2 separate regions of the Homo sapiens genome follow, and region 1 is reported to be linked to region 2. Evidence: microRNA targets listed by miRTarBase, many of them from high-throughput screens and not tested one by one. Region 2 holds a microRNA gene; the other region holds the end of a gene's coding sequence.

The links. Region 2 holds the annotated microRNA hsa-miR-4531 (AUGGAGAAGGCUUCUGA, at 2,035-2,051, opposite strand). A microRNA usually pairs through its seed, bases 2 to 8, with sites in the 3' UTR of a target mRNA and lowers its output. Matches are read on the target gene's strand: a 7mer-m8 pairs with bases 2 to 8, a 7mer-A1 pairs with bases 2 to 7 and ends in A, and an 8mer does both.
Region 1: miRTarBase lists MAF as a target of hsa-miR-4531. The part of its 3' UTR that is shown has no 7-base or 8-base seed match.

The regions. Positions count from the first base shown.
Region 1 is chr16:79,591,990-79,594,989 of GRCh38, reverse strand. It overlaps MAF (MAF bZIP transcription factor), which reads left to right. Exons shown (of 2, transcript NM_005360.5): 2 at 437-1,152. The coding sequence ends at 530. Among named protein-coding and RNA genes, the nearest start is that of MAF, 7.2 kb to the left of the region's middle.
Region 2 is chr19:44,651,655-44,654,654 of GRCh38, forward strand. It overlaps MIR4531 (microRNA 4531), which reads right to left and starts at 2,078; the gene lies at 2,032-2,078. PVR (PVR cell adhesion molecule) reads left to right here. Exons shown (of 8, transcript NM_006505.5): 4 at 2,246-2,363.

The DNA.
Region 1 (3,000 bases), not on the chromosome of region 2:
CAGTTATCTCATGACAAATGAGGCCTGGATTGGAAGGAAAATATAGTTGTGTAGAATTAAGCATTTTGATAGGAATCTACAAGGTAGTTGAATATAATAAGCAGGTTTGGGCCCCCAAACTTTAGAAAATCAAATGCAAAGGTGCTGGCAAAAATGAGGTTTGAGTGGCTGGCTGTAAGAGAAGGTTAACTCCTAGTAAAAGGCATTTTTAGAAATAACAATTACTGAAAACTTTGAAGTATAGTGGGAGTAGCAAACAAATACATGTTTTTTTTTTCTTACAAAGAACTCCTAAATCCTGAGTAAGTGCCATTCATTACAATAAGTCTCTAAATTTAAAAAAAAAAAAATCATATGAGGAAATCTAGCTTTCCCCTTTACGCTGCGTTTGATCTTTGTCTAAATAGTGTTAAAATTCCTTTCATTCCAATTACAGAACTGAGCCCACTCGCAAGTTGGAGCCATCAGTGGGATACGCCACATTTTGGAAGCCCCAGCATCGTGTACTTACCAGTGTGTTCACAAAATGAAATTTGTGTGAGAGCTGTACATTAAAAAAAATCATCATTATTATTATTATTTGCAGTCATGGAGAACCACCTACCCCTGACTTCTGTTTAGTCTCCTTTTTAAATAAAAATTACTGTGTTAGAGAAGAAGGCTATTAAATGTAGTAGTTAACTATGCCTCTTGTCTGGGGGTTTCATAGAGACCGGTAGGAAAGCGCACTCCTGCTTTTCGATTTATGGTGTGTGCAAGTAAACAGGTGCATTGCTTTCAACCTGCCATACTAGTTTTAAAAATTCACTGAAATTACAAAGATACATATATATGCATATATATAATGGAAAGTTTCCCGGAATGCAACAATTAGCATTTTAAAATCATATATAGGCATGCACATTCTAAATAGTACTTTTTCATGCTTCATTGTTTCTCTGGCAGATAATTTTACTAAGAAGAAAAATAGATATTCGACTCCCCTTCCCTAAACAAATCCACGGGCAGAGGCTCCAGCGGAGCCGAGCCCCCTGGTTTTCTCGTAGGCCCTAGACGGTGTTGCATTTATCAGTGATGTCAAACGTGCTCATTTGTCAGACATAGCTGTAAATGAAAACAATGTGTGGCAAAATACAAAGTTAGTTAAATACACACCCTCTGTGTGATTTTTTGCTCCCTTTTCTTTTTTGCTCCTACTCAAAAAAAAAAAAATCACCTCCTTTACATTTCCCTGGCTTCTTGCATGTTTCCCTTTTCAAAAACCATGTAATAATTTTTTACAATGTATCTGACACATTAATATATTGACATCAAATAGGCAGACATTCTACTTTTGCCTGGCAAATAAATCTGCTACGGAGACATCATTTCCTCACTGTCTCAAAGCCATAACTACCTGGGAGTCTTTCAACACAGACCCCTCCGATGGGAAATGCTGTTTATTACTGAATGCAGGATGCTCACGCTCTGATCTTTTCTCCCTTGTGCCTTTACCCCAGTCATTTTTACTTAGCAACACCAATTCTAGATACTTCTGTTCTGAAGTAGAACCACCCCCTTGCCACACTGCCAGTTTTCCTGCTAAAAGCAGTGGACAGAAGACAGATCATGGTCACCCTCACAAACATGGCACACAGCTGTCTCGGTAGCTGCATTCCCAGCATGTCCTGGTCTAAATATCTAGAGTTGCCTATGACACGTTCAAAGGTTCCCAAGCACAGTACATTGGGAGGCTTTTGCTGCTGTGGCCGTTGTTTTCGTTTAGGCCAACTTACTTCCGTATTCACATACTCTTGGCTTTACGAAATACACTCCTCCAGTCTACTAGGCCAATCAATATATTTAAAAGTCTGATTGCCACATAAGTCTCTCTCTCTCTCTTTTTGTTTTTTGTTTGTTTGTTTTTTTCTGTTTTGGCTGCCGGTAGTTAAAGACTGAGATAGGTTGGAAGACTAAAATACAGGAGTACATGAGTGACAACCTTCAGCCGTCTGATTTCCATGCCGGTAAAACACACAACCAAGCTCTTCTTAGCGCTGCTAATATAAACATTCACTAAGAGGGAATAGGAAGTGAGATTTACCAGCTTCACTTTGCTGATTTGCAAGGTTCCCCACTACGATTCACTGTCATTTGATTTTTGAAAAATAATTTTGTCCGTCTCTTTGAAGAAATGTCTTAGTTCTTTTATTTTGTTTGTTTGGTTTTTTTTAGAGAAGTTTTATCTGCAGTGATAGGCTACAATTTTTATCTCCGCTGATTATTTGTCAGGATGCTGAATGAATAATTTGGTCCTGTGCCTTCCTTGTTGTTCTGAGGAAAATAAGAGAAACTTGGAAGTTTGTTTCACTCTTAGCCCATCCTAAATCTAAAAGAAGATGTCCCAGGTCCAGGCAGGCCATGTAGTAGTTATAAAGGAGGTGGTCCAGGTCCAGCCACCTCAATCAGGATTTGTTTGTTTTGAAGCATTTGCTTAAAAGCGGAGCAAGAGTCTTAACCCAACTTGCCATAACACTGCTTTTCTCGCTTTTGATGTAAATCTTCAAAATTCAGACATCAAACAGCCCCAGAAAAGGGGAATTCTCTCCAGGCATTGCTCCGCCCCAGCTCCTGAACAAACCCAGCTCTGTCTAGCATTTTTTTCCCTAGCGGGGGTAGGGGACAGGGTGAGAGAATTTCAGTCTCCCAGGCTGTCTCATGATTGTTAGGGCATAAAGAAACACAGTCCTGCCACAAATTGGGAGCATCTTTACCCTTTAGAGAGAAACAAAACAAAACTAAACAAACAAATCAAATTGCTTTGCATGAAGGCGTAGCAAATAAAATCTCGGGCTCCCTGTTCCCTGCACCATTTGTAGGAGGTGAGAAATGAGGGAAACAAGAGAAAGGGGAACTTTAAAAGCGGGAGGCCCAGAAATAATCCCTGTTACCAGTCTGAATTTCACTTGCTCCGTGGCTAACGTCAGACCTAGTGTGCATGTATGCCAGAAGTAAACTAGG
Region 2 (3,000 bases):
GTCTGCACAGCCCCCTGACAGCATCTGTCCTGATTCTCCTGCACAGCGTTACCTCCACCAGCTCCCTCATGGCATCATCGACATTGACACCCACACATTTATCTCCACTGACAGCCCCAGGACTCTCTAACCAGTGCTGTCTAACAGAAATAGCATGCAAGCTGCATATAGGATTTTAAATTCTCCAGCGGCCACCCCATTAAAAAATTAAAAGAAAGAGGCCAGGCACGGTGGCTCACGCCTGTAATCCCAGCACTTTGGGAGGCCGAGGCAGGTGGATCACCTGAGGTCAGGCATTCAAGACCAGCCTGATCAATGTGGTGAAACTCTGTCTTCACTAAAAAATACAAAAATTAGCCAGGCACGGTGGCGGGTGCCTGTAATCCCAGCTACTCGGGAGACTGAGGCAGGAGAATCACTTGAACCTGGGAGGCGGAGATTGCAATGAGCGAGATTACGCCATTGCACTCCAGCCTGGGCAGCAGAGCAAAACTCCATCTCAAAAACAAGAAAAGAAAGAGATGAAATTTATTTGTTTATTTATTTATCTATTTATTTATTTGAGACGGGGTCTTACTCTGTCACCCAGACTGGAGTGCAGTGGCACAGCTCCCTGCAGCCTCAACCTCCTGGGCTTAAGTGATCCTCCCACCTCAGCCTCAGTCTCCTGAGTAGCTGGGACTACAGGCGTGTGACACCATGCCTAGCTAATTTTTGTTTTTGTTTTTGTTTTTGTTTTTTTGTTTTGTGATGAAGTCTTGCTCTGTCACCCAGGCTAGAGTGCAGTGGCACGATCTCAACTCACTGCAGCCTCCGCCTCTCGGGTTCAAGTGATTCTCCTGCCTCAGCCTCCCGAGTAGCTGGGATTACAAGCCCTGGCCACAGTGCCCAGCTAATTTTTGTATTTGTGGTAGAGACGGGATTTCACCATGTTGGCCAGGCTGGTCTCAAACTCCTGACCTCGTGATCCACCCACCTTGGCCTCCCAAATTGCTGGGATTACAGACGTGAGCCACCGCACCCGGCCTATTTTTATTTTTTCTGGAGACAGGATCTCCCTATGTTGCCCAGGCTGGTCTCAAACTCCTGGGCTCAAGTGATCCTCCTGCCTCAACCTCCCAAGGTACTGGGATTACAGGCATGAGCCACTGTGCCTGGCCAAAATTAATTTTTAATAATTGCCTTTACTTAACCCAATATACCTAAAATATTATTTCAACTTGTAATTGTTTTTTTAAAATTATTCTTGAGATCTTTCCCATTTATTTTGTCCTAGTAAAGCCTTTGAAATCTGGTGTGTATTTCGGCCTGGCTATATTTCGAGTGCTCAGTAGTCACATGTGGCCAGTAGGTGCCATATTGGACAGCACAGATCTAGACTAAGCTCCCACATCATCTACACTGGCTCATCCAAATACTGTCTACACACATACACAGAGCCTGTCTTAATTTCGTCAGCTCCCGGGGACACACTGTATATGTGGGGGTGATCTCACCCCCACCACCACATTTTCAACACTGGCCCGACAATATAGCATCTGCTGTAATATTCCAACACCCTGTCTACACTGAACCCATCAGTAATATCCACACAAGCTCTTCTAGACATCATTCATACTGTTCCTCCCACCATTGTCTATACTGCTTACTCCCCGCCAGGCAATTGGTACACAGATTCCCTCAGGTACTGTCTATACTGGAGTCCCTCAACACTGTCACTGGGTCTGAGCGAGGAGGAGATCTACACTGACTCCTACCCCTCGCCCCCGAATAAAACCCTGTCCCATTGGCCTGCCCCCAAGGACATTGAAAGGTCTTCGCTGTCAATCACGTATGGGATGGCTGAGCAGCAGCCTAGAGCAGGGTTATCTGGGACTCTTTCCTGCAGGACTTGTCAGAACCTTGAATACACTGCTGTGTGTTGTGAGTGGTCATTGCCTATGAGTGAGAAAAGGAGGAGGCATTTTCCTGCAGGACACCCAAGACATGCCTGGTCCAGGCTACCCAGGAAAGCTAGTGGAGAAAAGCAGCTCCTCAGAAGCCTTCTCCATGTCCCCACTGACCAAGGACTCCTAGGCTTCTGCTCTCTGTGGCACCCCATCTACCTAGACTCCTCCTAGGCCTCTCCAGCTCCCGCTGTTTTCCAAATATCCCCGGGCCTTTTCCTGCAGTGTCGTGAATCCCGCGTAGCCCCAGGCCCCCCAAAGCCTCCCAGTCTCTGAACCTCTGTATCCATTTCCTGCAGACCCCCCAGAGGTATCCATCTCTGGCTATGATAACAACTGGTACCTTGGCCAGAATGAGGCCACCCTGACCTGCGATGCTCGCAGCAACCCAGAGCCCACAGGCTATAATTGGAGCACGTGAGTCCTGGGTCTCAGGGAGGAGGGGCTGGGGGTCTGGATTTCTAGCACTGAGGGAGGAGGGGCTGGGGGCCTGGACTCCTGGGACTGAGGGAGAAGGGGCTGGGGGCCCGGACCCCTGGGTCTGAGGGACGAGAGGCTGGGAGCCCGGACTCCTGGGTCTGAGGGAAGAGGGGCTGGGGGTCTGGACCCCTGGGACTGAGAGAGGAGGGGCTGGGCCTGGACCCCTGGGTCTGAGGGAGGAGGGGCTGGGGGGTCTGGACCCCTGGGTCTGAGGGAGGAGAAGCTGGGAGCCTGGACCCCTGGGTCTGAGGCAGGACAGACTGGGGCCTGGACTCCTGGTCTAAGAGAGGAGGGAGATTCAGAAAAGAGAAAAAGAGGAGGTTGACTTCGGGCCCCCAGTGGGGGGCATCTCTGTTTTGACATCTCTGTTTTGCGGTTGAGGCGTTTAGCAGGTGGTTGAATCCTGGCTGGTGGATGCACCTGCTTTTTGGGGTGTGCCTGCTCTGTGCCCGGTACTTCCCCCGAATCCCATGTGACCCCATGCTGTGCACAGTCAGCAGCTGTTGCCCTGCCCAGGTTAAAGACCAGCCACGAGAGGGCAGAAGCGGCCCTTGAATCAGCGCTCGGCTCCAAA